2 linked regions of the Homo sapiens genome follow. The protein of the gene in region 1 interacts with the protein of each later gene in a biochemical or structural test. Each region holds a gene or a part of one and is shown on either strand. Other genes may lie near its edges. The genes, in order: NTF3 and LRP1.

Region 1 (3,807 bases):
GGTCCTTCACTTCTAAGTCAGGCAGCTACCTGCTGCCTCAGGCTACTGAAGGTCACCCTGGCCTGGGCTCTTGTTAGCTACTGTTTCCTCCAAAATCTCTGGCCTTGAATGTTGGAGAACCTTAAATCTTCCAACAAATCTCTGACTGAACAAACCCACAAAAAAAAATGGGGCTCAACAAATGTCTTCTCTGGAGATGTTACTAAAAAGTGAGCAATCACAACAGACCACACGAAATTTCACGTCAAAATCTGTTCTGTTTCAATGACATCACGGTCAGTCATAGGTTTGTCCTGTGAGGACAACCAAAGCTGCGGCAAGCTCTCCGTAGTTCCCAATTAATCCTATTTGAGAAGGACCATGGCACAGATGGGGACATGAACAGCAAATGCATTCTGACCATGTGGGGGTGTGTGCAACCTCTAGCCTCTCAGTATTTTTAGGTAAAACAAAAGACTGAGTTATGGAAAACTATTAACAACAACAAAAAATACTTTAACGCTCTGGGGCCATCTACATGTGTTCTCACAGGTTCTAAAATGAGTCCTCTGAAAGACTTTTTTTTTTTTTGTCCAGCCTCAATCTTGTTAGAAATCCATCCAGGCAAGAATGAGGTAATATCTACACTGGCCTCATACTTCAAGGTTCAACATGCCCATATAAAAATGATCTGAAGGAAGGTGTCCCCAACTTTTTTCTCAGGCTGTCCCACCTGTAAGAAGCAATCCAATGACAATCCAATCTGAGCCAAGCATCCAGATACCTGCCACCCATAACATAAGCTCTACAAATGCCCCATCTACCCAGGGCATCTCCTACGCTCACGTGTCCCCCAGCACGCACGCACGCACATCCTGTGCTCTCCTCTTACTCCACACATGCCTGTCCATGCACAAAGTACATCCACAGACCTTATCAGCAGCACCACACGGGGCTTAGGCTTGTCTCCAGTAGAAGATTTGGTCCTTTTCCAACAAACTCATTTTTAAATAAAACTAAATCTAAAACCCTAGCAACGGTCATTAGTTCAACATCCCCAACGCCAGAAACTGCCTGCCTCGTTAAAGAGTAAAACAGCCGCGGGTGAGGCTTGAGGCAGGGTGGTGGGCTCTAAAGATCTTCTGTGTCAGCCTGCATCCCCTCTCTCACTTCCAGGCAATGCACAGACTTGCATTCCCTCCAGTTGGGGTGGGAGTGCTGTAACTGCTCAGGAAAAGGTCTGGAGAAGCTTGTAGCAGAAGCCGCCTGCTCCGTCAGGCATCCTGAATGTAGGGAAAGAGGAGAGGCCTGAACATCTGATACATCTGGGAGTGGAAGTGAAGACATGGGAAATGTTATGTAATTAAACTCTGCTGGCCTGTCCCGCCTGGGGAATGTGAGACCCATCAGCAGTGACCTCTTCCAATCAACTTAATTGGCCCAATCTCGCCAAGAAAAGCAACAGAATTAGTTTAGTGCCTCTTGGAAATAGCTTAGCTCCTGACTATTTATGGCCACTGAACTCAAGGATGGGAGCCTGACTCTGAGCCAGGAGTTGACAGCATGTACTGACTTCTGGGAGGAATCGGAGGTTTCAGTGTGTTTCCATGCCCCTCTACGACTCCATCTTCATCTCTGGGGAAAGTGGCTGTACCCAACTTGCTGCACTGGGCACAAAGAATTTCAAAGACCCAAAGCCCAGGCTTTCCTCTTACCAGGCAGGCTAGACTTTGCTCTTCTTTTATTCAAATGGTGCCTATGTCAAGGGCAATTATTATTTTTGCTGTTCTCCACGTCACATTTCTTTTGGTGCTGTGGTCTGCATAGCTGATGTTAAAAAATAAAGAAATGTCTGTCTCTGATCATTAATAACATTGATTCTTAGACTACCTTTCCTCTGAATAGCTCAAAGATCTTAAAGATTTCCATCATCTATAATCTAGGTTTGGCTGCCTCCAGCTTCTGGATGAGTAAACTGAGGCAGTTATAAAAAGTTTTATTTACACAATGAGTGAGCAGTAGAGATGCTGTGGGCATCATGATTACTGATTAAGTTGCATTGTAAAGAGAAAGGGGTCCAGATCCTATTTTCACAATGACCTACATACGTGCTAGCACCTGTATTTAATTACATTTCATCTTTGTATGGCTGTATACAACTAAACACATCAAGTTTTGATGGGGGAAAAGAGGAGTGAACTTTCCTTCTCCTTGAGTCATTATATTGCCCCTTTACAAAAAGAGAAACAGAAGAGTTATAGAGATTAAAAATGTCCCCAAAGTCACACTTTTCCCAAGTGGTAGAACTGGACTAGAACTAAGACATTCCCAATCCAGTCTTGCACTTCACCACCCTGCTCTCAGAAATATCTGCCCCGGATCTTCTGACCAATAGTCAAGCCCTATATAAACTATCTCTTACACAGATGAGTTTCCCTCTCAAAAATAAGGTAGACCCTTAAAATGGCACAGCTGTAACTTCATGAATTCAAAAATGTCATGAGTCAAATAAAGTCCTCCCAAACATATGCCCAACGGTGGTCAGAACCTAATCAAATGGGGATCCCCATCGTCTGCTCCAGACAGGCAGATGTGTGCATCACAAAAGCACAGCCTTCACTCTGTTCCTACCCAGTTGCCTCACCAGCCATCTCAGGGTATGGACCCGATCAACGACACCTTTGTCTCATTCCCCAAAGTCTACGGCCCTTCTTTTGTGTACACCTTTTTTCGCTAAAGATGCACATCTGAGTATCCAAGACAATTTTTATCCTTCCCCAGACACACAGAATTCCTGCAAAAACACATACTGGCACCCCCTTCACAAGAGCCAGAATATCCACCCCTCCTATCCACCTCGCTAGTTTTCTCCCAGTTACGTTACTCCAGGCCAAAGTGCATGTGCACGCACCTGCATGCATACCCACCCCCCCAACACACACTCAGGTTAGCTTTACACTCGTAGCCCAGAAAACATCAAAGATGAACAAACACTCCCAGTCCATCTCTTCCTTGATCATGACTTCACCATTCTCCAGCTCCACATAACAGGTCTCATTCCAGCTATGAAGGAGGCTCTGTGTACTCTTAGAAACTCAATCCTTAGAGGGATCTGGACCTGCATTCTGACCTGAAGTGCAGCACCCTCCAATTCCCAGCCCACACCCCACACAAGAAACAACAACACCGTCCAGCTCCCTTCCCAATACACAAAAGTCTACATCATCCCTCTCTTTATGCCCCACTTTTTACAAAACCAGAGATATATTTCAAGTCAGCTTCCCTTTGGCCCCCAAGATCCATAAACATCTCTAGAAACTGAATTATAGACCTTGAAGAAACCTCAACAAGCGTCGAGCTCTGTCTATTTCTGGCAAAATTGCATCAGTTTTACTGAGCCTGGAGAAGGAATTTTTCCAGGGCAGTGTGCCATGCCCCAGTACCCAGCAATGGGCTGAGCATCCAGTAGGCACTCCATTAGCTTTAATTGATTATCAATATGAACTGGTGATAGTGAATTCTCCTATTACATAAGAAACCCATTACAAAACATTATACAACATGCATCCCTGACACCAGGCACAGATAGTGCATTCCTCTACTTACTTCAGTCTTATGCACACATCTCTTCCTGTTCCCACCCAGTGCCAATGCACAAGGACTTTTCCCCTTAAATGTACATCCCTCATTCTAAGCCTCCTCCAATTCTCTTCTCTCTGGGGAGGAAGGAGGGGGGAGGCAAACACCAACACCAACCCGGTGTCCTTCCCTGCAAATGCTTTGTCTTTCCATAAAGAGGATCTGAGCTCACACTTTTCTACCCCCTAC
Region 2 (4,451 bases), about 52 Mb from region 1:
TACCTACTCTAGTAACTGGTAATATGCCGGCTCAAGGGGGTGTGTGGAGGAAGGTCAGGAAAAAGGGAGGGAGGAAGTCAGCCTTATTCTGTGAGCTGTATTTGTCTGGGGGTGCCCTCCCCACTAGAAAATGTTCCCCAATCTCAGCAGGGCCCTCAATAGTCCCATTCTCCACCCCATCTTTCTGCAACCTCTCCAGCAGCAGGTACACTCAATTTTGTCGCTAGTGGGGAGTGACGTTACTCCCCAAAGGGCAGGGGACCCCAGAGGCAGTTTCAGGCATAGAAGAGAAAGCAGAAGAGGTGGGAAAGCCCCTAGGATTGCTGCCCTGGAGAGAAAGCAGCAAGGCTGTGATAGCAGGAGGAAGGTAACATACTAAGTCAGGTGAGCTGGGTCATCTCCATTCTCTGGAAAGTAAACAAGAAAGTTCAATGTTGATGGACCCTGAGGCAAGAGGGCAGGGGTTAGGGATAAGGGATCCCCTAGGCTGCCTCTGGATAGAGTTGAACTTACATTTCTATGCAATTCCCCTTTCTCACCACCCTGTACCCAAGAGTGGGGTGGAGCTGATTATTTATATTCCCACTCCCAAGGCAGAAATATTGGTGTGTGTTTGGGGAGGGGTCCTCTCCTGGGGCTTTGGATAGTTTGATCTGAGCTGGAGATACAGAGGGGGCGTGGGTGAACATTTTAAGAAAGGGTAGGGAGATAGTTAAGGAGAACATGTCCAGTCTCTCTCTTCCACTAACTTGGTGTGGCAAATAGAACTCCTTTAGAGCCCTGGGAGTGATGCTATCTGGGGTCCCTTCCTGACCTTCCCTGCTCTCCACAGAAACCCTCTTGCTTCTGCCTAACTCTAGCCACCCTCCTTCAAGGGGCTCCTGATGGGTCTCTCTCTCTCTCAAATTTTTTTTCTATTCCTCCCAGAAGCGGCTGCAACCCCAATCTCCCTGCCTCGATTTCCCTTCTCACCTCACAGGGCTGAGAACAAGAGAAAAACACATGATAATGACAGGAGTTATAGGCAGAAGCCGGCTGTGCGGCATCTGGAGGATATTCAGGAAAAGCCCCTCTCCTCCTCCGGGGCAGCTAATTGGTGGGGTGGGGGTGGGGGGTAGAGAGTCCCCAAGATGGCACAACTGAGGGACACTAAATATGTTTTTTGGGGACACAGCTGCTTCCTGACCCTGTAAGTCTCCTCCCCCAATTGAAGCAAGTTAGGGAGAGGGAGGGAGATAATCTGGTTTCAGAGAAAAACTTTCCCAATCCCAATCTGGCAAGACAGAGGAGGGGGTGTATGATGGTATCCAGCCCAGTTTTGTCTTTGGATGAGAGGGCTAAGATGACAGGAGGGGATGAGATCCCACCCCTTCTCAAATCAGGGACCTAGCCCAGCCCAACCCCATGACCCCAGCTTAATGCTTAAAGCTTGGGCAAGACTTGAACCAGTGACTCACAAGTAGGAGAAAAAAACAGCTGACAAAAAAAGGGAAGAGAGGCACCCCATTTCCCCAAAAGGATGCAGTTCTAGCCTAAGCCTAACTCTGCAATATACAAAGTGTGTGTGTATGGGGTTTTGGGCTTGGAGGGGTGCAGGGAATAAACAGATTTACTAAAGGAGTGTGGGGGCACAGCCATAATCCCCATCCAACCTCCAACTCTCCTTCCAATCCAAACTGTGATGAAGCCAGAAGTCAGGAAGAAGGCAGCCTCCCCCACCCTCCTACCCCAGCATTCCAGGCCATTCTCCAGTCCCCTTCCCCAGTGATGACATCTGACGTTTTTTCATCTCAAAGCTCCCAGGAATTAAGAAGGAAAATTCAAAGTCACATAGTATGGCGAGCTCCCCCTCTCTGCCCCCCAACACAGCCCTACCCCAGGCTACTGACAGAGGCCCTGAGAGGGGGAAGAGCCTACTTCAGCACCCAGGCCTCCAGCCGGGGCTCTGGGGTCGATTCCACGCCCAAGCAGGGGGCCCTCCCTCTCCCCACCCACAGCCTTCCCGGGCCTGCCTGCCCTCTGCCCGGCAGGGTACCCCTGGCCTGGCTCCCCTTTCGAGCTACAGAGGCCAGTGCAAAAGCCACCCCCCCCACCCCCACCCCCTTTTGCAGCCGAACATTGCAAATCCGGATTCCTTCACAATTCAGATGGGGGGTGGGGGGTTGTGAGGATGTAGGGGAGGCGGAGGCCCTCCCCGAACAGAGATAGGAAAAGAAGGCCTCTCCTCCCCAGGATCAGAAAAATGGGGAGCCCTCTTCTCTCTACCCAGGCCTCTGGTCTTTGTTTGTGCTGGGGGGCCCCGGAAGCATCATTTGCCCAGGGCCCCCATCCCCCAAATCGGACCCCATCCCCGCCCCCAGTCGGGCCGCTGCTGTGTCAGCTGGACTGGGATAACAAAAGGCACCCCCTCCCGCGTCTCCCTTCCCCATCCGTATGCAGGAGTGGGGGCTGGGGAGAGGGTGCCCCCAGGGGTCCAAGGGGGACGCGGAATCTCACTCACCGTCGATAGCCGCCGCGACCAGAGCTGAGAGCAGGGGCAGCAGCAGGAGCAACGGCGGGGTCAGCATGGTGTGGGCTGATGCAAGCAGCAGCCCCTTCCCCTCTGGTCCTGCTACTTCTCTCCTTCACCCCCCCCAGTTGGGGGGTCCCCCTTTTCCTCCTTTCCCCCTCCTCCTTCTCTGTTCTTATTCTTTCCTTCGGCAAAGCGCACCAGGGGCGTGGGTGAAGAGGTAGAGTTCCGAGCCCCTTGGGGAGGGCCTGCTGACGGGGGTGCGCCCCCTGCCCCGAAATCCAAACCCTTCACCCCACCCCCCCGCTTCACTCCTCGCTGCTCTTTCCCCCTCCCCGGGCGAAGCTCACAGCCCCATCTCGGAGCCGCCTCCGGCTGCAAAAATGCACAATTGGGAGGAGGCGGGGAGGGGGGGTGGGGGGCGTGGACCGGGTAGGGGAGCCTTTGGAGGGGGCTTGATGGAGCTCTGGGGGCTCCCCTTGTTTCCGCCTCCTCAGTGCATGGGCCTGGAGCTCGCACCGCTGTTCCCCGGACTGAAGTGCCGAGGGGGGGGCTGATGGGGGAGAGGGAGGGGACGGGTTGAGGAGGGAGGGAGGGAAGGGGCGGGGAAAGAAAAAAGGTTGGTGGGTGGGGGGAGAAAGAGCTACGCGGCAATCCAGTGAGTGCGCATGCGCCGATTTGACGCGCTGCCCGGGGGAGGGCGACGCGGACCCGCGACAGGGTTCGGAGTTCTGGAAAGCGGTCCAAGAGTGAGGGTCCCGGGGACTCGCTGGCTAGTTTGGGGCCTGGGGCGCCCTCTCCCCTGGCTGGGCCCTCCTCCCTGGTGCTCCAGAGAGCAGAAGGGGTCGAGGGTGGGATTGGGCAGTGGGCGGAGAGCTGAGCGGCTCCCCTTTGAAACTCAGTGTCATACTCTAGGATTTCAGGCTCCCTCCGGGGGCGTCCGGGACTCAGTGGTCTGGGCCGAGGCTCGATTTTCTAGGGGAACCCTGAAGGTGCCTCCTCTGCCCGGGGTGGGGACAGGGACCGCCAGTCCGCGGGGAAGGTGCAGGGAAAGGCTGAGCTTTGATTTGGAGACTTTGGAAGACCGGACTGGGATTGGGGCCTGCGAAGGAGGGGGCGGGGTTGGGGAGGGACCGCGAGGACCCGCCCCCACCTCGCTCCCGGGCTCGGAGTAAACAGGGACACCCGAGGGGACACGCCGGAGCTTGTCCGCCCGCGTGGGGCTCGGGGATGGAGCCCACCTTAGTACCCGCCCGCCCTGCTCGCCCAGCCCTAGGCGCGGGAGGGGCAGGCCCTGGTTTGGAGGGAGGTGAGTCACCAGCGGGTGGGGTTGAGGAAAGGCCACCCCCTTTCGCCCAAGAAGTCGGGGCTCATTTATTTTTCTGTTTTTTTTTTTTTTTTTTTTTTTAATACCTTCTGACTGGCTTGCCATCAAGTTAGGGTTTTAGATTCCGAGCGCCAGGATTTGGAATAAGATGAGGGACTCTGGACCTTCGTTTCCAGGCCTCGGGTTCCAAGGAGGTGTCTGCTGAGCGCCGGACCTTTGTCCCCAGGCTCAGCCCACACGGGAATGATACTTTGCAGAAGGCAGGCGCCAGGCGGTTCCCAGGGGCCAGTGAACGTGCTTTTGGTCACTGCCCCCTTCTGGGCGGCGTTTTATGGCTGTTACCTTAGTGTCTGACTTTCTAGGTGTCTGCATGTCAGAGTTCAAGGAGCGGGGCAGACGACGTCGGCTGCCAAAAATTGACGCTGGAGAGGAGGGACTGTTCCCCCTTTTACGTTCTAGTTACGGAAAAGTCCCCACTCCAGTCTGTCCTTGGCAGAAACAGGAGCAGCACGAAGGACTTGCCTCCTAATGACAGTGAGCTCAACCTTTAGCTTCTTCCAGCCGGCTTTGCTCAGCGCGGTGGCCACCTGCCTTTAGTCTCCTGGGCTAGAAACC

The links.
Region 2: the proteins of NTF3 (region 1) and LRP1 form a complex in vitro, tested with the Homo sapiens proteins (one study listed by BioGRID).

What each region holds. Positions count from the first base shown.
Region 1 is NC_000012.12:5,434,921-5,438,727, reverse strand, and holds part of NTF3 (neurotrophin-3 isoform 1 preproprotein), read right to left. Parts: intron 1-3,807. UniProt on the Homo sapiens protein: Seems to promote the survival of visceral and proprioceptive sensory neurons.
Region 2 is NC_000012.12:57,127,081-57,131,531, reverse strand, and holds the start of LRP1 (prolow-density lipoprotein receptor-related protein 1 preproprotein), read right to left. Parts: upstream 3,050-4,451; 5' UTR 2,568-3,049; coding exon 2,501-2,567; intron 1-2,500. UniProt on the Homo sapiens protein: Endocytic receptor involved in endocytosis and in phagocytosis of apoptotic cells. Required for early embryonic development. Involved in cellular lipid homeostasis.